Linked DNA regions of Homo sapiens. The protein of the gene in region 4 interacts with the protein of the main gene of each other region in a pairwise test. Each region holds a gene or a part of one and is shown on either strand. Other genes may lie near its edges. The genes, in order: DCAF6, LMCD1, MYBPC3 and TRIM55.

What was found.
Region 1: the proteins of TRIM55 (region 4) and DCAF6 interact in a two-hybrid assay, tested with the Homo sapiens proteins (one study listed by BioGRID).
Region 2: the proteins of TRIM55 (region 4) and LMCD1 interact in a two-hybrid assay, tested with the Homo sapiens proteins (one study listed by BioGRID).
Region 3: the proteins of TRIM55 (region 4) and MYBPC3 interact in a two-hybrid assay, tested with the Homo sapiens proteins (one study listed by BioGRID).

Annotation. Positions count from the first base shown.
Region 1 is NC_000001.11:168,044,683-168,051,724, forward strand, and holds part of DCAF6 (DDB1- and CUL4-associated factor 6), read left to right. Parts: intron 1-217; coding exon 218-545; intron 546-6,209; coding exon 6,210-6,251; intron 6,252-7,042. UniProt on the Homo sapiens protein: Ligand-dependent coactivator of nuclear receptors. Enhance transcriptional activity of the nuclear receptors NR3C1 and AR. May function as a substrate receptor for CUL4-DDB1 E3 ubiquitin-protein ligase complex.
Region 2 is NC_000003.12:8,497,594-8,504,864, reverse strand, and holds the start of LMCD1 (LIM and cysteine-rich domains protein 1), read right to left. Parts: upstream 3,043-7,271; 5' UTR 2,927-3,042; coding exon 2,885-2,926; intron 1-2,884. UniProt on the Homo sapiens protein: Transcriptional cofactor that restricts GATA6 function by inhibiting DNA-binding, resulting in repression of GATA6 transcriptional activation of downstream target genes. Represses GATA6-mediated trans activation of lung- and cardiac tissue-specific promoters.
Region 3 is NC_000011.10:47,330,864-47,335,702, reverse strand, and holds the end of MYBPC3 (myosin-binding protein C, cardiac-type), read left to right. Parts: intron 1-493; coding exon 494-661; intron 662-1,692; coding exon 1,693-1,781; intron 1,782-1,950; coding exon 1,951-2,146; intron 2,147-2,369; coding exon 2,370-2,509; intron 2,510-2,729; coding exon 2,730-2,889; intron 2,890-3,000; coding exon 3,001-3,137; intron 3,138-3,444; coding exon 3,445-3,631; intron 3,632-3,821; coding exon 3,822-3,832; 3' UTR 3,833-3,858; intron 3,859-3,986; 3' UTR 3,987-4,297; downstream 4,298-4,839. UniProt on the Homo sapiens protein: Thick filament-associated protein located in the crossbridge region of vertebrate striated muscle a bands. In vitro it binds MHC, F-actin and native thin filaments, and modifies the activity of actin-activated myosin ATPase.
Region 4 is NC_000008.11:66,172,087-66,175,985, reverse strand, and holds the end of TRIM55 (tripartite motif-containing protein 55), read right to left. Parts: intron 1,516-3,899; coding exon 1,393-1,515; 3' UTR 501-1,392; downstream 1-500. UniProt on the Homo sapiens protein: E3 ubiquitin ligase that plays an important role in regulating cardiac development and contractility, muscle growth, metabolism, and fiber-type differentiation.

The DNA.
Region 1 (7,042 bases), on a different chromosome or scaffold from region 4:
CCTTTAGATAATTGCTTTGTATGGGAAAATAAAAAGCCTTAATCTATGTTAATCTCTCTATAGTTAGAGGCCATGTTCAAGTGTATTGTGGAAGTTTCCTCCCCTTATAGAGGAATTAGACATCATATTAGAATGTGTTTGTGAGCTCCTAAGTTAGGTTAAATAATTAGTATTGCCCACATTACCACCTGTTACATACAACTTTATTTTCTGACAGCACAATCAGATAAGTTCACAGCCAAGCCATTGGATTCCAACTCAGGAGAAAGAAATGACCTCAATCTTGATCGCTCTTGTGGGGTTCCAGAAGAATCTGCTTCATCTGAAAAAGCCAAGGAACCAGAAACTTCAGATCAGACTAGCACTGAGAGTGCTACCAATGAAAATAACACCAATCCTGAGCCTCAGTTCCAAACAGAAGCCACTGGGCCTTCAGCTCATGAAGAAACATCCACCAGGGACTCTGCTCTTCAGGACACAGATGACAGTGATGATGACCCAGTCCTGATCCCAGGTGCAAGGTATCGAGCAGGACCTGGTGATAGGTTGGTAAATTTTTAATTAACATGAACTGTAAAAAATGTATTTCACAAGGATTTGTTTGAAGTCATTGAAGGGAATCTCTCCATTTTTGACAGTTGCTTCCTCTAAGAGTGTCTCATTCATATAAACTTAAAGAAACTTTACAGTTTACTGTAAATGATTTTACGTATTATATTCTTTGAGCACTGTGCATTAATAGGGAAATAAAAAGTCTTCATTCTCCATATCTCTAGCACTGAGGCTTGCTTCTGAATTTACAGATCAAGAGAAAAGAATGTTAAGAATGACCCACAGGTTATTTATGAAGTCAAGGTTATACTTAGCTCTCAGATTATCTTGTAGATATCCAGGCCTTTATCAGTGTTGTTTTGGTTTTAATGTTAATTTTTTCTGCTTTTCTATTGACCCTGGATTAAGGTAGTGTGTTAGTAGTTCTGTTTTTGGGAACACTGTTTTTCTTTGATTTCTACTAAACTTAGTGACTGAATTTAGAAAATGAAAAATTATACCAAATAAATACCATAGCAGCAATAAAAAATTGAATTGCCAACATGTTTTTATAGTTTTTCTATATTTTATGTGATCACAAGGATATATTTTCTTTTGTGGGAGTTAAAATAAATTTTTAAAGTATACTGCATTTCATACTCATGGAAAACTATTTCTATTATTAGTGCTATCATATCTTATTGTAAGTTCTGTCCTCTTTCAGAGAACCTAGTTTTAATCTTAAAATCCTAGTTTACAAAGGAGTGAGATTCTATTTGAAATATTTCACATTTTATATGCTCAATATATTGCTGTTTATAAGATACCCTAAAGTATCTGTCAACTGAAAAATATAATGAAAGATTAATTTACCACTCATAGTCAAGAGCATGATGATGGGTTTGAATACTGGTTTCACCACTTACCAGCAGTGTTTTTTCATTCAAATTACTTAATGACTCTTAAAGATTCAGTTTCTTATCTATAAAATAGGGTTATGATTATCTAAAATTATTGTAAGAATTTTAAAAAAATCTATCAGTCAATCATGATGTGACCTGGCTCATGTTAATAGCACTAATTAAATGATAGCTGTATTAAACAATCAAGATAGTCTATGAGGCCACTTTAATTTTTAAAAGAATTACAGTAAGAATGACTCTAGGGATAAAGACTGAAAGAAGACAGGCAAAAATCCTGAAGAGGATAGCTTGCAGCTCAGGGGAACTGCCTTTTCTTAACTATGAAAGGGTATGTTTCTTTCTTTAGTCATATTTGGGAAATGTTTACTTTGCCATGGCACTTTTTTTGTAGATATGAAGCAAGAATTTCCCATGTTTATACTTAGAGATTAATCAAACATCTTCTCTTTACCTGTACACAGTAATCTTGAGCATTCTTAGTATATATTTTAGGCAAGTAAGACTTAGTTCTATTTCTTTCCATACCCAGAGGGAGTTCCTTAGAATGTCATTACCACTTAATTTATGCAGATGAGGTTAGCAAGCTTAGCACAATTTGAAAATCAAACTGATAATTTCCAAAATCAAACTGATAATTTCCAAAACCCAGGGTTGAGAGCTAGATTCTATAATTAAGCTTGTACATTTATGGCCTTCCATTTATATAAATGAGCTAATGTCTTATTTTTCTACATTTAAGTAGTAGAACATGATACGGAGGTCATAATTGAAAATTAAATTTAAGTGCCCAGTTTCTAGTAATGTTTTTAATGGATATTAGACACTTTGAGAAAGTCATAACTATTTAGCAGCTTCTATGCAGGCTAATTATAACACTTAATACCAAGCCTGCTTTATAGCTGAGGAAACTTAGGTGCTAAGCAAAGGGTTTTGTATATTCTAGAGCTAAGGAGTTTTGTTTTTTGAAACACAGTACTATAACATTAATGAGAAAGGAGGATTTGAGGGAGGGTGGGTCCTAGAGAATACAGAAACTGTAATCTTTCTATAGATCTTTATCATCTTCATAATACTTAGATGATTTATATGTTTTAGGGATTCTTTTAGCATTTAGATCTGTCACAAAGTTGGTTCCCAATAGCCTCATTGACCCAAGGAAACCCAGATGCTGAACTAGACTAGCAGAATCTTTTAGAAGAGAGATAATCAGTGACAACAAACAGCCTGGAACTGATCCCACTTCATGCATATACTCTTGAATTCATACTTTCATGGTTAAATCCAGATTTGAAACCACTCTGGGATCACATTTAGTTCCCTGCTTTTTAAAAATTAAATATTATTTAATATTCTGTACACTCATTTGAGTATTTAGCCTATGTTGGTCCTACATGGTATTTTGTTTTGTAAGATATAGTAGTAAACTTCCTGAAGAGTAACAGAAGAACGATAAAATTCTTATCCTTCAAGAAACTTAATTATTTATGAATAAGAGAGAATACCGAAGCCATTTATAGGAACATAGAAAACATTTAATATATGAAAGTAAATACAATTATATATATATGTGTGTGTGTGTATATATATATAAAAGATGTGTATACTGAGGTAATTAGAAAGTGATTAGAGTAACAATTACATTAATTTTCCTTTGAGATTTGCATTATTTTCTAGCTCTTTACCAAAAATTTGTAAATGGTGTAAATATTTCCTCTGACTTTTATCTAAATCGGTTATTATAATTCTTAACTTTTTTGGCACCATCCTGATTTAATCTTGAACAACTGTAAAAAAGTATACTTTTAATATTTCTGCACCTTTCTAAGGGCTCTTCATCATTGACACTCCTGCCAGTTTATCTTACTTCTCAATTTAGCTGACTTTTATTCTAAAGAGAGAAAGTTTAAGAGATTTTGCTTCTTAAGAACATGAAAAGAATCACTTACCAGCTTGTAATTAGTCCTATGATTTTGGAGAGTTTCTGTTTCCCAAGAGACTAAGGGTTGTGAAGCTCTGTTGTAACAATCATACCATTTGGTTCCTAGAGTCCAAGGATACATTGCACACATGGATGAAATGCCCACCTAAAAGGATGTATGTCTTAAAGTTCCCTCCATGCTGCCATTTGCAAAGCCCAGTCAATATTAGTTTAGCTGGGGTAGAGAAGTGGTCCTAAAATTAAATATTATACAAGTGTATACTTAATTTGATCTGTACTTTATATGAAGAACTATATAGTGGACCTCATCAGTTTTTGTTCCAAATTTAATTTTTAAAAGGAAACTTTAAAAGGCTTTATAGCTAAGTCATTTCTGACAAATTTACTGAAAATATCAGAACAGTTCCTTGCAATACAGAGTAATGATTTTTAAAAAAATATTTACATTCTTATAATTTGGTTAAATAAATGACCCAGGTTTTCACTTTTGGGCTGAGATCAAGCATGAGAAGGAAATGTCTTAGAAAATGAAGACCTTAACAACTAACATAGATATTTTTAAATGGAATGCTCTTCTCATTAACTACAGCAAGTCTATGTAAATGTAACTGGGAGTCTATAGCAGAGCAGCAGACTTACTCCTAAAGAGCCATATAGTAAATATTTTGGCTTTGTTGGCCAGGAGACAAAATGGAGACCATTATGGTAGGTACTTATATGACCATTTAAAATATTAACATTTAAAAATGTAAAAACTATTCTTAGCCTAAGGTTCATTTCAAAAATCGGCATTTGGCGGAGATCTAGCCCAAGAGCCATAGCTTGCAAATACCTGCTCTATAGTAATCAGTGTTATAGAGAGAAATCAAACTATAGTCTGTGGTAAAATGCCTCTACTGGCAAAAATCCAGACTTTGAAACAATGAAATAATATGAATCTCCACATATTTGGGTTCCCTTTAACTTTGCGTAAGGCAAGAACATGGAACAGTAAATGGGAAATAAATTGAAAAAAGACAGAAAGAAATGTTTGTTCTCTAATCATGGTGTTTAAAAAAATAAAATTAGTCCTAATGTCAAAAATAAGTCTGACTTAGGAAAAAAGCAAAACAAAGCAAAAAAATAGTATGTGTATCTTTTAGTGATTTTATATACTGTATTTATTTCATTTTGTTTTATTTTTTTGAGACAGGGTCTTGCCCTGTTGCCCAGGCTGGAGTGCAGTGGTATGATCATAGCTCACTGCAACCTCATACTCCTGGGCTCAAGCGATCTTCCTCCCTCAGTCTCCCAAGTAGCTGGGATTACAGGTGCATGTTGCTGCACTCTGCTAATTTGTTGTTGTTGTTGTTGTTGTTTTTTTTTTTTTTTTTTTTTAGAAGAGACAGTCTCACTATGTTGACCAGGCTGGTCTTGAACTCCTGGCCTCAAGCCTCAGCCTCCCAAAGTGCTGGGGGACTATAGGCGTGAGCCACCGCGCCTGGCCATATACTGGGTTAAGAAACGTAAATATATGCCCTTGGAATGAAAAGAGTGTGGTTGAGATCTCTGTTTAGATAATCTGCATATAATTTTTTTTTTTTTTTTTTTTTTTTTTGGAGACGGAGTCTCGCTCCCTCACCCAGGCTGGAGTGCAGTGGGGCAATCTTGGCTCACTGCAAGCTCTGCCTCCCAGGTTCACGCCATTCTCCTGCCTCAGCCTCCCAAGTAGCTGGGACTACAGGCGCCTGCCACCACGCCCAGCTAATTTTTTGTATTTTTAGTAGATACGGGGTTTCACCGTGTTAGCCAGGATGATCTCGATCTCCTGACCTCGTGATCCGCCTGCCTCAGCCTCCCAAAGTGCTGGGATTACCGGCATGAGCCACCGCACCCAGGCTGTATAATTTTTTTTTTTTTTTACAATGCCAAATCTGTTGTAAGTGATTTGACGGCCTGATTGGTAGCTCTTACTGTTTCTAAACTCAAGAGAAAACCTAAATTACTCTCTGAAAAAAAAAAACAAGCATCTAAGAAAGCTTCCTGAATAAGTCCTCACATAGTCTTGAATAGTTTTTAATTATAGCCTCAGTTAGGATGATCTAACAATTTTTTCCCTAAAGAGTGATTTATCCTATATTGCCCTTTAATAACTTTTAAAGTGTTATTTTCATAGAAATTTGGTTCCATATACCTACTCTGGACCATGGAGCATAGCCCTCACTTTTAAAGCCAAAATTCCTTGTACTGTAAATTTGGCAGCATTTATTCAGTCATCATTGTAACCATGATTTCCTTATTTCTCATTATTGCAGTTTACTCTTTATTAAAGAAAATTGCAGAGAGAAAAGATGTACTCAAAGAGAAAGAACTGGACTCCTAGGGAGTTAAAAGCCCTGTTATTCTTTGCTCATTTGTTATATAGTCTTGTGGTTAGGCCAAGTGAATTAGCTTAGGGCTTAATTATTTATTTTCCAAAGAGCTCCTCAGCTTTGAGGAGCATGTACGTGTTCCAGAGGATGGTATTCATTATAAGCCAGTGCAGTTTCCCATACTGTGACAGGATTGGGTTCTGATTTATTTAAAAGATAAAAGGGATTAAGTGCAATGTCTTCCTTCTATTCTAGCTTCAATGAGTGTTTCTGTTTCCTTAATTTCTTCATATACATTTAGTTGACTGACATATTCCTTGCTTAATGCCCGAAGTCACAAAGGGAAACAAAAGTTTTTTTTTAAATTGAGATGATTGATGATAAAAAGGGTGTCCTTAATGCTTTAAATATTTGGTTCTTTGAAGTCTTTGTAAGTGATTTCAGTTATTGTGTTCCCTTCACTAGATTTAATATCAGAGGAACAACAATAGGTGATAGAATAATGAGGTAATTCAGTATGTTCCTTCATAATTTTTTTTTTATGATGGATTTGCCAGGTCTTCTTTTGCCACAGCTAACCACCTTTCCTATTAACAGTTAATACTCCCTTTGGACTTACTGAATTCTAAGTGCTAAGCATTGTAAAGCAGGTCGCTTTCCACAAACTATATTTAGCTGCATGCACTGCATGGGGATAGAATGAAAAGAAATTTCCTGTGTGCAGACTGATGTTCACTTCAAATATGTCATATGGCAAAGTAACTATAATCTGAAATGATGTACTTTAAGTATCAGTTACTCTTTTTGGATATTTTGTTGAAGAATGCAATTTATGTTTTTTAAATTTGATTGGGATAACAATTACCAACTTTTTGTTATTCGTATATGCTCCTTTTCCTTGAGCTCAATAACTAAAAATGTACTTGAATCTAAATCTGTGTATAGGTTTCTGATTTTTGCAAGAAAGTTGTTTCCTTATAAATAGTTTAGAAATAGTGTCACATATCAAGATGATATATAAGCCTCAAGCACTTCTCTATTTGGGACATATTTTTGAGTAGATCTTTAAAGTGAACCTCAATGACATCAGTCACCTACTGAAAACCTGTTTTGCTGACAAAATCAACCTTGTACTTAACTCTAGAGGCATATATCTGTTATTTACCATCAGTTTCTAAAACAGTTGAACATGAAACATATAGCAACAATCAGAAATGTAAAGTTTGTAGAGTTCCTAATGAAAAATACAGAAGTCATGAAATAAGCCAAAAAATATAATAGATGTATGGAAATTTCTG
Region 2 (7,271 bases), on a different chromosome or scaffold from region 4:
AACAAATCCATAGTCGAGATTGGTTTCACCCAGAAAAATGGCATTTGGCCTTCAAGGCCCTTTGTTACCAAGAAATGTTGGCGATTTCACCATTCTCAGGGAACTGTCTGTGCTAGGAAACCTTCTCTTTCCTAATAGAAAAAAAAAGATGGTTCAAGAGCAGCCGGTGGAAGCATTTTACTTAGAAAGAAAGAGAGAAGTTAGGGAACTTGTAAGCTCTGCCACGATGTATGTATGTGGCCCCCAGTGAGTCTCTTTCCCCAGCCTGTCTGGGGTTGGTTAGATGACCTTTAAGTCTACTCCAGTTTTTAGATTTTATGTTCTTTGCTGAAGATCTTTTTATGACTTTCCAGTTGGTGGGGATTCCCGCCCCAGCCCCCTCGGGGGTAGGGAAGCGGAAACAGCCTGTATGCCATTTTAAACCATTTCTCATTTTGTAAATAGGCCCCTTGTAGCTCTAAGAGTCTATGAAATTGTTTCAAAATGTCTAAGTGCGATTATGCATCCTGAAGCCAAATGTTATAAACCTCCCCCACATACTGTTGCAGATTTAAAAAATAAATATGCAGTAAAAGCTTTTCAGCGTGTTGCTGATATCACGTAGTACTTAATCACTTCTGTGACATTCAGTTCAGCAAGGGGAGCTTCTCGGCTCTCCTCCCTCCCCTCCACATTTTGAGTTGAAGGCATTGGTTAACCTACAAAATGGTGATCTTCCTCCTGATTGTCGCAGTCCCAAGAGATAAAAAAAATCTGCCCTTTCATCTCTACCCACCACATTCTTTCTCTAAGCCTGTAATTGGATCTAAATGGAAAACAAACCCTTTGCAGGCCAAGGAAGTTGGCACTAGGGGGTGACAAGAAGGAGAACATGTTCCACCTCTAATCAGGATAATCACACTCCCCTATGCAAAGGAAAATAAAAACAAGGCTTCCTCCAAGTGGCAACACAGGACTGTGGTGAGGAGGAGGAGTCTCCATATACCTCATCTCACCTCATACAGTAACTATCAACCAGCTTATATTAAAAATACTCAGAATCATTTCACTTTCCAGAGGACAATGGAACTCTGCCACCTTTAGCCGTGAACTATTCTGTGTCTGAACTTGGGGAGGCAGTTCAGACACACAAATATCAATGCTACAAGTTAAAAAATAATGCATAAAATGAAGCCTATGCAAACAGTGTGGTCTTAGCTGGACAGATATTCTCATGAGTCACCCACAGGTTTTTGAGTCCTGCTGTGTGGCATGGTGTGCTATGTTCAAACAGGGATGAACAAGACAGGTTTGCCCTCAAGGAGTCCAGAAAAATGTATAGAGAAATAAGAGCATTGCATGCATAACTCACTACTAGGTAGCAATTAATAGGTATCTTCTAAGAGTCTAAAATGTTATGGTAATTTCTGTAGGAGGGGAAATGACTTGATTCTGCAAATAGCTTGGCAAATGCAGTGAGGCATGATACATTCCAGACAAATGCCCAGATTCAATGTGACTTGGTACCCACATTTAGAAGGATCCACTGGACTCTGTGACAGGGTCTGGGCAGGTGGTCTACAGAAGAGCACAGCTACAAATTAGACAGTGCATGCTGTGCCTCTGAGTGGCTGTTTGTGTCTTTAGTTTGATTCTCACGTCTTTTGTTTTTCCCCCTCTCATTCTACCCTGCAGGTTAATGGCAGATATTTAAGGAAGACTTTGCCCTTCAAGACTAAACCCTGTGAAATCAGAGTTTAACAATGACTGCTTTGGGAAATTAACTCACAGTGTCAGTATCCCTGCTACCACTGCCATGAGGGAGGTTAGGCCTATCCTCCCCACATCAGAGACAAGGAAACTGAGGCTCAGAAAAGTGACCTGGTGAATCATGTGCAGTTAAAAAGTGGCAGGGACTGAGTCTGGATGCCTAGGGCTTGCCTTACAGTCAGCTGCCTGTTAGAACCAACTCTCTGTGACCCCGGGCCTCAGTTTCCCGATCTGTAAAGCCTAGGTTGTCTCTCTGTTCCCTTCCCGTTCACATGTTCTCTAAGTCTCCAGCCTGTGCCTTCTCCCAGCTGCATTCAGGTAGGCAACAAGTGGTATTGGAGCTATAGGCACAGCCGCAGGCTCCTGTGCAGGAGTTTACCCATGACCTTCTGGGCTCCGGGCCAGCCCTTCTTGTAAGGGAAACGTGCAGACCCTGGGGACAGAAATCAGTTCCCTTATGCTGGAACTGCTGCCACTGCCAACATCACCAACTAAAGAAACTGCGTGCGTGTGTGTGTGTGTGTGTGTGTGTGTGTGTGTGTGTGTATTGGGGGAAACACACAAAACACTGGGATAATAGCAAAAGGGAGACTGTGAGTAAATATTACATGCTCTCAACCCTTACTTCAGCCACCTGAGGACAGGGAGTGAGGAAGCTAGGGGTTTTTCCTTTACAGACCATAAGATTTCATATATATATATTATATATTATATATATTTTATATATAATATATATTATATATATTTTATATAATATATATTATATATTTTATATATAATATATATTATATATAATATATATTTTATATATTATATATAATATATATTATATATATTTTATATATATATTTTATATACATTTTATATATATTGTATATATATGTAAAACCTTAATTAAACTTTAACTAGCATCACCAAAGACATAAGACCCTTTGCAAATATTTTACACAACATTGGGTTTGGGGTGTGTGTGCCTGTTAGCTCAAACATGTATTCCCAACTATTTGTTTTCCATGCAGTTTTGGAATTTAAAGAGTTCCCTTCTCATTACCTTTTGGGAAGTTTCCGCGAACAGATGGGAAGGGGAACAAGAAAAAGTAAGAATCTGGGTAAATACAAACAGCTTTCCACTCACCTTTTTAACTCCTGGGTTGAGGTCCTTAGCCACCTTTGCCATCCTCTTCTGGGGTGGGGGAACAGCGCCTGGCTTCTCAGGCAGAGGCGCGAGGGCGCGCAGCGGGGACAGCGGCGGCTGAATGGCCAAGTTCGCGGGCCTGGGAGGGAGCTCTGTGCGCAGCCAGGCGCAGCTGGGCCGCTTTAATTGGAGAGCGGGACTCCCTCTAAAACCTCGCCAGCCACTCCGCGCCGGCGCTCGCGCGAGGCCAGCCAATCCCAGCGCGAGGCTGTCCCCCTCCCTCAGGGAGGTCTCTGCACTGTGGCAGCGAGCGGAGCTGAGCGCCGGCTGCCCTGACGTCAGCATGGCCGCGGCCCCTGACTACCCAGCTCCCTTCTATCCCTCGAGCGGCAGGAATCCGTCCCCACGCCCTTTTCCTTTAAAGGGCAACGGGCCGAAGGTGGGGCGGGCGGCGCGGCTCCCGCGATCCATTCAGGTCAAAAGGGAGAGTGATCAAACAGGAGAGCCGAGGTATTTTTAGTGAGCTGGATCCAGAAATAAATGCTGAGCTGTGCTCCCCTTCCCACCCTTTCTGCCTGGTCGTAGGGGGCGCGGGGAGGGCTGAGGGAGGAGGTGTTTTGCAGGAGCTGGCTAACGTTTCCCAAACCTGGGCGAGTTCTCCAATATCCAGAGAGGAGAAAAGATTCCAGCGAGTTATGATTTTTTTAAACTTAACGTTCGTAAAGTATTAAACTGCTTTCTTATAACTTGCTTTAACATAAATCCTTCTTATTCCATGAGCAAGAAATCACTGTCCTGATCTTAGAGATGCTCCTGTGGACATACTGTCTTGTTGTATGCTCATATTATCTCAGATATTATTATTATTATGACTGTAAGACGATAGATGAGGAAATAATCAGAATAACTGGTCCACAGCTGAATTACTGAGCAAGGCTTTAACCTGAGAGACTGAGAGTAATAGAGAGAAAGCTCATGGGGGCGTGGCGGGGGGGGGGAGGGAGGCGGCGGGCACAGGATTGTAAACTATAAACTAGGAAGTTAGTAATTTTTAGATAAATGGGGTCATGCAGGCCTGGACAAACAAGATTCCATCTGAGTTCACAAATCCATGGAATGTGGAGTCCTTGCAACGCATAACATAACTACTCTTATAAGACAGAATTGGCCAGGTTCCTCTCTCTATGCCACGTTGTTTGCCTATAAAGCCACATCTCTCTGCTGAGCCGGTTCCACAGACTTGGATTCCAGAGGCATTTCCCCCCTGCCCTGACAGAGGATTAAACACAAGCCCTTTTTATCCTAGAGAGAATACTGCTGTCTCTGTTGTGAGGTGTTCGGCCTGTAACCCGTCTTTGCAGTGCCCCCTGCCAGAAAAACCAGGGTCCCGTGGGCTAAAATAAAACTCGGTTGCACAGAGACTGAAGAGTGGTCCCGAAGTACACCATTCGGGAGGGATTTGGTGAGAAGGGGAGGCTGCAGTTCCCACTGTGGGGCTGTCTCTTGCTGGAGGCTTTTTCCTCTTGAAAGCCTCCTCCAATTTAGTTCTTATCATCATCTCCAGTCATCCCAAATCTCAGCCAGGGATCCTGAATTGTGACTTTTTATTACATATTCCTGGAAAGGGCTTTTTGTGGCTTATCTTTTCCAAGATGAGGGATGACCTATTTCTTTTTTCACAGATTTCTGCTATAATTGATTTTTGCCTTGTTTGCTCCCAGCTATGTCCTCAAACACCTAGCATGTGGTATAGGCACAGTACACATTTGGCAAATGAATAGAGGTTGGGTTCTGGCTTTTATTTTTTTTATTGATACATCATGATTGTACATGTGGTATTTTGATATATGCTTACAATGTGTAATGATCAAATCAGGGTGTTTAGGATTTCCATCACCTTGAACATTTATAATTTCTTTGTACTGGGAACATGTCAAATCACTTTTAGCTTTTCTTTTTTTTTTTTTTTTTTTTTTGAGACAGAGTCTCGCGCTGTTGCCCAGGCTGGAATGCAGTGGCGCGATCTCGGCTCACTGTGACCTCTGCCTCCCAGGTTCAAGTGAGTCTCCCACCTCGGCTTCCCAAGAAGCTGGGACTACAGGCATGAGCCACCATACCTGGCTCATTTTTGTATTTTTAGTAGAGACAGAGTTTCACCATATTGGCCAGGCTGGTCTTGAACTCCTGACCTCAAGTGATCCTCCTACCTTGGCATCCCAAAGTGCTGGAATTACAGGAGTGAGCCACCGCACCTAGCCTCTTTTAGCTATTTTGAAGTATACAATTCACTGTTGTTGACTATAGTCACCCTACTGTGCTGTTGAATGCTAGACTTTTTCTTGCTATCAGACAGTGTTTGTTCGCATTAACCAACCTCTGTTCATCCCCTCACACCCCAGCCCACCATTTCCCAACCTCTGGTAACCTTCTTCTACTCTCTACCTCCATGCAGTAAGCAGGCAAAGTAAGAATAGGGAGAGATGGTGCAATGGCACACCTGGCCTGGTTTGTCCAAACTTCCAAGGTAGGCTGCATGTTAAACCAGTATGTAAATAAACAGTGGCCAACAGAAGCCTGGCCTGGGAGAGGAGGTTTCCACATGAATAGTCCTTTCAGTAGCAAATCCTAGGAACAATAGTGCTAAATCAGGATGTCATGCCAGAAGCCTTTATATTTTAGAGCTGTGGGAACAGAAGCCAGGAATATAACAAAGGCAAGCTTTATCCCTTTCAAACGAGGCAAAAGCCTGCCCAGTGAAGTCATTTCCCACTCCCTTCCCAGCCACCCTCCTTGCCCCATCTTGAAAAATCATTGTTCCATGAAATAATACTAATTTTATTAAGTTAACACTATTTATTAATAGCTCCAACCACAAGAGTCTCTCCCCCTCCTTATTTTTACCCTTGGCTCCAGGTACAATTAAGGAGGCAGATATTGCAGCTGTTTCTCAGAATTTCTCAGAACACGAGTGTCAGGAGCTGTTGCTTGGGGTGGCTCATTCCCTTCTTTCTGGAAAAAGACCTGCTGTAGGCAGAGAGGGGATCCCTGCTATCTGCTAGAAGTTGCTGTCTCCTCAGCTGAGGATTCTGACTTTGACACTTTAAACCTTACACTTGACCCTCTTGTTCCAGGGGACCTATATTCAGAGACTTAACCGGACACCTGGACAGACCATTACAACTTGGGACTTTTCAGGAGAATGAGGGAAATGTAGTTATTGCACCTGAGCCTCACTCCAGCTCTGAGGTCCTCTTCACTTCTCTTTGGAAGAAAATTGGATATCTTTTCCTAGTTGAAAGAGTAGAGATCTGATTTCTCCAAGGATCATCGCTTTTTGACACGGGATTATTAGAAGCATTCATTCATCTATCAAGGAGTTTTGGGATACTTGCCATAAGCCAAGCCCTCTGATAGGTGCTGGAAACATCAAGGTAAATAAAAGAGTTCTTCTCCTTGGAGAACATATTGGTCTAATAACTACTTCTGGGGCTCCCTGGTTGACAGAGCCCTAATCTTACTTGAACTCCAAGACAACTAGTCTCAGAGAAAACAGAAATCCCAAACAGTCCCAGGGCTGTATCAAAGGTCATACAGCTGGCAAGTGGCAGAGCTGAAATTTAAATTCAGAGTTTTTAACTTCAGATTGCACCCTTTCACCTATACTGCACTGCTTCCATAATGATTGCAGATGGTTGATTATAAGCAAAACAGGAAGCACTTGGATTAAGATGCTGCTGTTGTTGTCATCATTATCACTGGGCTTGTCCTAACTGGGATTTTTGACTCTGAGTCTCGTATTCTTTTTACCATTCATGAACAAATTAATTAAAGAAACAAATATTGAATTGGGAAATACTATGGATTAGGCCCTGAGCTGAGGATGCAACAGTGAATAAGACAGGAAATGTCCCTCCCCTCATATAGCTTCTATTCTAATGTGTGTAGGGGAGACAGGCATTAAACAAGTGGATAGATATTTAGATAAGGTAATTAAGGATGGCAGTGAGTGCCTAGGAGGAAATAAATGGAGAAATTCATTGGACACAGTCATTTTAGATTAGGGGGTCCAGGAAGGTCTGGCTGAGCAGGTGGTGTGTGAACTAAGCCCCAGTGAAGGAGAATGAGTCAGCTGTGAGTACAGTCCCCATGGAGAGAACATTCCAGGAGGATGGGGTCATGAGAGCAGAGACCCTGAGATGAGTGCGAGTGTGGCATGTCTGAGGGATCATGAGGTCAGTGTAGTGGGTCAGGGAGAATGGTATGAGGAGCCTCAGGTGAGGCATGCAGGAGCTGGCTCATGTGGGCCCCATAAACCATGCTAAGGAGTTTATGTTCTCTCCTGGAAATGGCAGGAGGTTAGACATCAGTGCTTTCCCACTGGAACACA
Region 3 (4,839 bases), on a different chromosome or scaffold from region 4:
AATGCAGAGTAAAGCTGACTGTAACACTTCTTTGAGCAGTGCGAAATCAGCAACTACATTTTAAAAACATATTTAAGGCCAGGCGCGATGGCTTACGCCTGTAATCCCAGCACTTTGGGAGGCCAAGGTGGGCGGATCACCTGAGGTCGGGAGTTCGAGACCAGTCTGACCAACGTGGAGAAACCCCGTCTCTACTAAAAATACAAAATTAGCCGGGTGTGGTGGTGGGCACCTGTGATCCCAGCTACGCGGGAGGCTGAGGCAGGAGAATCACTTGAACTCGGGAGGCAGAAGTTGCGGTGAGCCAAGATCATGCCATTGCACTCCAGCCTGGGAGACAAGAGCGAAACTCCATCTCAAAAATAAATAAACAAATAAAAATTTAAAAAAACATATTTAAATCCTGGAGATTCCTATCAGAGGAGTGGGCAGTGGGAGTGGGGTGTCAGTGGTGACACAGCCTGTGGCCTTGCCTCCCCCTCCCCACCCCCAGGCTCAGAGTGGGTGGCTGCCCTGCAGGGGCTGACAGAGCACACATCGATACTGGTGAAGGACCTGCCCACGGGGGCCCGGCTGCTTTTCCGAGTGCGGGCACACAATATGGCAGGGCCTGGAGCCCCTGTTACCACCACGGAGCCGGTGACAGTGCAGGAGATCCTGCGTGAGTGCCCCTTTGTGCAGTCACAAGACCCGCCATTGACACCCCAGGCCCTTGGTGTCCAGTGGAGGTGGGGACAGTTGGGGAGGCCCAGAATGCTCTGCCCAGAACGCTGGGCAGAGACAGGAGGGGTTGGAGCCATCGTCCATGCGCTAGGCCTAGGGAAAAAGTGCAGAGAGGGTGGCCAGGCACAGTGGCTCAAGCCTGTAATCCCAGCACTTTAGGAGGCCAAGGCAGGCAGATCACTTGAGGTCAGGAGTTTGAGACCAGCCTGGCCAACATAGTGAAACCCTGTCTCTACTAAAAATACAAAAACTAGCCAGGTGTGGTGGCGCGTGCCTGTAGTCCCTCAACTACTTGGGAGGCTGAGGCAGAAGAATCGCTTGGACCCGGGAGGTGGCAGTTGCAATGAGCTGAGATCACACTATTGCACTCCAGTCTGGGTGACAGAGTGAGACAACGTCTCAAAAAAAAAAAAAGTGCAGAAAGGGCTCTCTTGGTGTATGTCAGTCCCTTAGTTCTGGAACAGGGAAAGTAAAAGCCACAGTACCCAAGCTCTCTTCCAGGAGTGTCTCAGCTCCAACAGGTAAATATTGTCTATGTAGTCAGATTGGTCCCTCTGGGATCCACTTCCCATTCCTTTGTTCCTTGTCCCAACAAAGGGTCCATCTTTTGTAAGGATTGGTTCTCAAAGCTGGAACGAGGCAGCAAACTCAGGTGGTAACAACACAGGGCATAGGGTGTCAAAGCCCAGGCTTACACCCTGGTCTATGACTTACTAGCTGTGTGACTTCAGTCAAGTTGCTTACCCTCTCTGATCCCTGCCTTTTGAAGTGGTGAGGCTCGGGGAAGCCAGCTGGGCTTGGGCAGCCTGGAGTTGCTGTGTTAGCAGGAGCTAAAGGAGGCGCAGGGCCCAGCAGGCAGCTTTTTTCTTAGCTGCAGCTCTCTGGGCCTTGTCTCAAGGGAGGTTGGAGCTGTGGAGCCCCTCAGAGCTGTGGCGGGCCCTCACTTAGCTACCCACTCTATACCCACAGAACGGCCACGGCTTCAGCTGCCCAGGCACCTGCGCCAGACCATTCAGAAGAAGGTCGGGGAGCCTGTGAACCTTCTCATCCCTTTCCAGGTGGGACTGGCCCCCTTCCCTGTCCCCCAGGGGAGAGAGGCTATAGTGTGTTGTTCCCATCCAGTGGACTGATGTCTCAGGGCTGGCCTGATCTGAGGTACCAGAGGCTGGGGTGGCGGCCGGCCCTTGGAGTGATCCAGGTTCAGGGTTAAGCTTTTCCTCCCCTCAGGGCAAGCCCCGGCCTCAGGTGACCTGGACCAAAGAGGGGCAGCCCCTGGCAGGCGAGGAGGTGAGCATCCGCAACAGCCCCACAGACACCATCCTGTTCATCCGGGCCGCTCGCCGCGTGCATTCAGGCACTTACCAGGTGACGGTGCGCATTGAGAACATGGAGGACAAGGCCACGCTGGTGCTGCAGGTTGTTGGTGCGTGGCCAAGGCCTCCTTGAGCCCCCTTGTTTCCCTTCCCTGGGCTGGGCTGCTGGGGCCAAGGGTGGGGCCAGGGGACCCAACCCACAGCTCACATTTTCCAGTCCACTGCCCCAGCAGGCCTGGCCCTGGTTGGCAGGGGTGGGGTGGTCCCTGGAGCCAGTGACCCCCTGCTCACTGTCAGGAGGCGTGGTGACCCAACTGGGTCTGTCTCCCGCAGACAAGCCAAGTCCTCCCCAGGATCTCCGGGTGACTGACGCCTGGGGTCTTAATGTGGCTCTGGAGTGGAAGCCACCCCAGGATGTCGGCAACACGGAGCTCTGGGGGTACACAGTGCAGAAAGCCGACAAGAAGACCATGGTGAGCCCAGGGTCTGGGGTCCCCACGTGCACCCTGCCTAGGCCCGGCAGACCCAGGCCGCAGCTACCCTTCACTGTCCTCACCGTGGACCCCTCACCCTCCCTCTGCTGATCTGAATCCCTCCATAGTAGGGGTGGAGATGCCAAGGGCACCCAGGAGAGGCTCTCGGCATCAGGAAGGGCCTGGCCCAGAGATGCCTCCCCTCCCTCCCTGCCCCCAGGAGTGGTTCACCGTCTTGGAGCATTACCGCCGCACCCACTGCGTGGTGCCAGAGCTCATCATTGGCAATGGCTACTACTTCCGCGTCTTCAGCCAGAATATGGTTGGCTTTAGTGACAGAGCGGCCACCACCAAGGAGCCCGTCTTTATCCCCAGACCAGGTGCTGTACCCTCATTCTTCCAACCAGGGGCTGGGGCAGGGAGGCTGTGGGAACAGGGAGAGGGGCCTAGCTTTGTGTGGCCCTCTCGGTACCAAGTCCTGTCACCAACAGGCATCACCTATGAGCCACCCAACTATAAGGCCCTGGACTTCTCCGAGGCCCCAAGCTTCACCCAGCCCCTGGTGAACCGCTCGGTCATCGCGGGCTACACTGCTATGCTCTGCTGTGCTGTCCGGGGTAGCCCCAAGGTAGGGAACTTTAGGCGCTGGTCCAGGCCGACCAGGAGGCAGGGCTCACAGGCCCCGACGTTGAGCAGTCCTCTCCCCAGCCTGTCTCCCCTGCTTTCTCTCCACCTTGGGGTGTATGGACCGGGTTCCTCCCCCTGGGCAGGGCCATGGTACTCACTCTTGGTTCCATGTTTGTTTCCAGCCTTGGGCATAGTCAGGGACTCTCGTGGGACCCCCCGAGTAGAAACACAGATGTGTCTCCCTGGGTCCCTGCCAGGTCCCCTCTCAGCCTGGATGGCTTCCCTCCCTCTCTTTACCTTATTTATAGCCCAAGATTTCCTGGTTCAAGAATGGCCTGGACCTGGGAGAAGACGCCCGCTTCCGCATGTTCAGCAAGCAGGGAGTGTTGACTCTGGAGATTAGAAAGCCCTGCCCCTTTGACGGGGGCATCTATGTCTGCAGGGCCACCAACTTACAGGGCGAGGCACGGTGTGAGTGCCGCCTGGAGGTGCGAGGTGAGGAGCCCTCGGGGCCAGGGCCTGGGAGATGGGAAGAGCGGGCGGCAGTGGGGACCCTGGGCTTTGCTCCGTTGTCCTCGGCCAAGCACCTGCCCTGGCTGCAAGGGCACGGACCCTGCCACGCCCAGATGGGCAATAGCTTCCAGAAGGCTGGGAGGACACAGTGACATGGCCTCCTCTTCTGCAGTGCCTCAGTGACCAGGCTGGCTCCTGGGGATGGCCAGGTATGTACCACCCGACACCCAGGGCACAAGTCAGTGGCTGAGCCCTGGCCCTTGGTCCTGGGGCAGCCATCAGTAAATGGGAGGCTGTAGGGGCCCTCCATTCACTCGTAAGATAACCTGTGTTGCAGGTACAACCGGATGCCAGCCCCGTGCCAGGAGCCTGGAGGGAAGTTGGGGAAACCCCTCCCTACTGTTGGATGTATGTGTGACAAGTGTGTCTCCTGTGCTGCGATGGGGGATCAGCAGGGCAGTTGTCGGGCAGTCCTGAGTGGGTGTTGCACAGACTGGTCCACAGGGCTCCTGAAGGAAGCCCCTGGATCTTTGGGGTAAAAGGAGGGTGGCCTCAAGAAACAATGTCTGGGGACAGGCCTTTCTGGCCTGCTATGTCTTCCCAATGTTTATTGGGCAATAAAAGATAAGTGCAGTCACAGAGAACTCACTCTTCTCAATTTCGGTGTGCCTGTTTTCATAAAAATGCACAGGGGATGGCCAGGTGCGGTGGCTCATGCCTGTTATCCCAGCACTTTGGGAGGCGGAGGCGGGCCGATCACCTGAGGTCAGGAGATCAAGACCAGCCTGGCCAACATGGTGAAACCCCGTCTCTACTAAAAATACAAAAATTAGCTGGGCAAGGTGGCGCGCCTATAATCCCAGCTATTTGGAAGGCTGAGGCAGGAGAATCACCTGAACCCAGGAGGTAGAGTTTGAGGTGGGCCGAGATCATGCCACTGCACTTCAGCCTGGGTGATGGAGTGAGACCATGTCTCAAAAAAAAAAAAAGAAAAAAGCCCAGGGACATTGATCTTCACAGCAAAGTGAGAGCAGATACTGTTTTTTGTTTTGTTTTCCCGATGATTAAACCAGGCCCAGAGTGGTTTCTGAGTTCATAAAACATTAACGCTAGAAGGAACCTGTCTTCCCCTACAGCATTCACTCTTCAGATGATGAAACTGAGCTGTGACAGCGGAAAGTGCATTTAAC
Region 4 (3,899 bases):
AATGCTGCATTCTTTTTCTATGAGAAAAACTCACTCTGTCAAACTACTACTTTGGTACCATAAAACTATTTTTTCTAAGCTATTTTCCAATGACTACATCTAATAAGAGAAACTTAATAGCATCTCCACTTAAGACGACTAAATTTAGTCATTATAAAATGTCACATAGGAAAATTTTCTTATGAAGAACATTTTGACTTTAATAATTACACAAATATCCTCCACATTTTTGCTTATGTCAACCCTAATCACTTTTATTCTTAGGAACAGGAACTACCTTTGTTCATTTCTAAAACTGAACAGCACATTTAATTAGTTTTACAGTGCATTTGCCTTTGGTAGTTTAGTTATAGCTTTAAACAATTCAATCAAATGTTTAATACTTCAAAATTAATTTGTCTGTATGAAGATGCATCTTATCCTGGGACCCTTGAAATACACTTAACTAATGGATGAATAAGATAATACAGAACATTGAATAAATCATTATAAGACGAAGCTTTTAAAAACATCATTTATTTAAGAGTTCATATAAAGTTACACTTATGTTCTGAAGGAGGCATTATGGTGGGACAAATATTAACAAAGCATGATTTAAATATATATATATTTAATGTGTGATATGTTTGTATATATATTTAAACACATGCAATTGTTCTACAATTTACCAGATTGGTGCCACAGTGAATAAAAGAGAAAGTAGACAGCTTTTGCTGGAAGATTCAACTAAAGTGCCTAATACGTGAAAATCTAAAACTAATATTAGAAAAATGTCACAAGAGATGCCCAGGCCTTCAGCTTTCTGGACCATGAAAGTGTCACCAAATTCAAAGAACATTTCTGAATGTACATCCAGTGACATCTGTTATGCAAAAGAGGAAAACTTTGTGAAACATTTCATAGCTTTGGTCAATGATTTACTTTTTGTCCATGTATTGATAAATCAGTCACTTCTGAGTTGACACTGATTTTCACTGACCACCTGCACTGTTAAAGAGTAAAGGAAATGAAAGCTACCATAATATAATAACAAAAAGTCAGTGCCTATGAGAGACAAAAGCATAGTGACCACTTTTTTCACCATTTGCCACTTGTTAGTGACATACACATGTACCACACCTACACACCCTTCACAACATTTTCCACACAATAGAAGATTTGTATAAGATCAAGTTTATTATTTCCAGTGCTTTCTGCAACTATTTTCTCAAAATATTCTTTCCCCCCAAGATGTTAGATAAGTCATATGGAATTGCAGTTTGGGGCTATTTTTGCAGAAATCCTGTTCAGAGGTCCCTTTCATCATCTGCATAATATTAATTTCACTTGGGCTTCCTGCTGCCCACATGCATCTCAGCCAGGCAGACAGAGGGGCAGCAGTTGGAATGAATATCATTCATTTAGGGAGTTCAACCAGGAAAAGGAGAAGATATGGCGAGCTGGCTCAGAATCAGCTCCACTGCCACTCGCTGGAGCTGCAGCCTGTCCCTGGAGGGGAGGAGCCTCAAATCCAATCTGCAATGGAAGAAAATGGGAATCAGAGAAAAAAGAGGTTTGTTCTTTTTGGATTGGTCCAGTCACTTTTCTATTGAGGAGAAAGTATAATAATAATAACAATTATTATTATAATAACAATATTATTATATGGCACATAATTATTAGAAATAGAAAGCAAGCTCAGATTATTTTGGCTACAGCCAAGAGTCATGAAAATAATTCACACTCATGATACAAAAAGAAGGAACAGTAATGCATGCAGTGGAGAGAAGTTCTTGGGAAAAAGGAGTTCAGGCTATTCTAGTTTTTTTTTTTTTTAAGTCCACTTGTACATGATTTATTCAGATGAAAGTCTCATTGAAACCTCTAGGAACTGGGTTTAGAAAGGGTTGCAGAATTTGAAAAAATTCCAAATTTAAATGGCACTGCTATGCCACATGACATTGTGGGACATATTAATATAATCCCTCCACTGCTGAAGAAGTTTCTAGCATGCATATACATATATATTTTCTTACTATAATTTTTACAAAACTACAGGCTTAATTTTGGGCAAATCATGATGGGATTTTTTTTTCTCTAGGTAATAAAATCTAATAACCATATCTATATTAAATCAAATCCAATATAAGCATGTCTAAAGAAATAATTATCTTTTGTAGGCACCTGAGATAGACAGGTTGCAATTCTGAATTTATTGATTAATCTATGTCATAAGCAAAATTTACTTATGTTGTTTTGCCTTTAAAAATCACAACTTAATGGAATGAGGGACAATCAGGAAGAAGTCTTGCTGAAATGCAATTTGATTTTATGAGCTCAAACTCTTTACATTTCAAGGTACCATGACAAACACCGTCCTTCCTAGGAGAACTATGGATAAATAAGCAAACATGTTCCGATGACATCACTGGTAAAATTATCCCACCAGATTAGAATGCCACTGATTTCAAAGCAGTGAGGTAGCCACATGCATTCAGCTCAGAAGCCCTGGATGATTTTATGAAGCTGCGATATGAATGGATAATACCTGGCACAAGTAAAGCAGAACTTTGGTTAAGTATGTTGTTTTACTGCCACTCAAAATAGTCTTGAGAGCAAAATGAGTTATTGGCCTGCACTTTACCAGATTTTACCCTAAACATATGTTTGGGGATGATGTTTCAAGAGCAATAAAATTATCCTAAGTCTTTATGGCTTTGGGATAATCCTTTGTACTGCCACATTGCTTCCTGATAGAAAGTTAAAAAGGGCCATGAAATCATATTAGCCACAGTAGAATAAAACTGAAATAGGTAGTTTTCTATGAAGGAATAGTGGAAACATCAAGCGAAATTGGGCTTTTTGAAAAAGAACGTTACTAGATTCTGTTGGTAATGTGTCAGATACCTCAATGTCCTTGAAAGTGAAGTAAAATAAACATTATCCTGACAGAATCCTGCACCTATTTTTACACGTCCAACTCCTTCCTTGCCCACCATAATCCTCTTACCCTGGCTAATAAACAAACAAACAAAAAACAAACCCTTAAGTCTCATGTATGGCTTATGCAAAAAACAACAACAACAAAAAACCCCGAAAGCCCAAATGACCTGGGCATATATAAAAAGACTTATTTTTAACCATTCAATTTGAGCAAATAGCGAATTCCGCCTGGATGAACAGACCATCAAGGTCCATTTTGTGGCCTCTTTTTCTTGAAGGCAGTTTCTAATCTAAAGGGAACTTCCATGGCAGCTGTTCTGACATAGTTGAAGGGTGACACAAGTTGGGTAATGTGTTTTCTGCAGAAGGCAGAACCTTTGGGAAACTGCTGGTAGCGAACAAGCCCCTGGGACTGCTTTTGGAATATGTATAAATTTTTGTGCTTTCCTCTACTAGAGATTGACATCTATCTTCCATTTAAAATGTTTTAGTTGTTAACCCACTATTGCCTTCATATTTGGGATTACATAGTTTGGGTTGGCTTCTCTTACACTTCCATGTTTCCAGGAAATTATTAAGTTTTCCTCCAAACAATATGGACCAATGCTATCTTTCAGAAAAGAAAAGCCAGTACCAGAGTGGGGGGTTATCCAATAGCAGAGGTTATCCTGAGTATCTTTAGATAATTGCACCATCTCCTTGGTCTTGTTTATATCCACTGAGGACCCAACAACCAGCTCAGCAAAGAAAGTTCTGTGCAAAGAGGCTTAGCCTAGTTTTGAATCCCACACAAACTACTTATTAGCTGTATGACTTGGACAAGTTAGTTAACTCTCTGAGCCTTAGTTTTCTCTTCTGTAAAATAGAGATGAGAACCTACCTTACAAGGTTGTCGTAAGGACTGAATAAAGTAATACACATAAAGCACTTTACACATGCCTCACTTATATTAGGTTGGTCCTTCCTTCCTTCCTTCC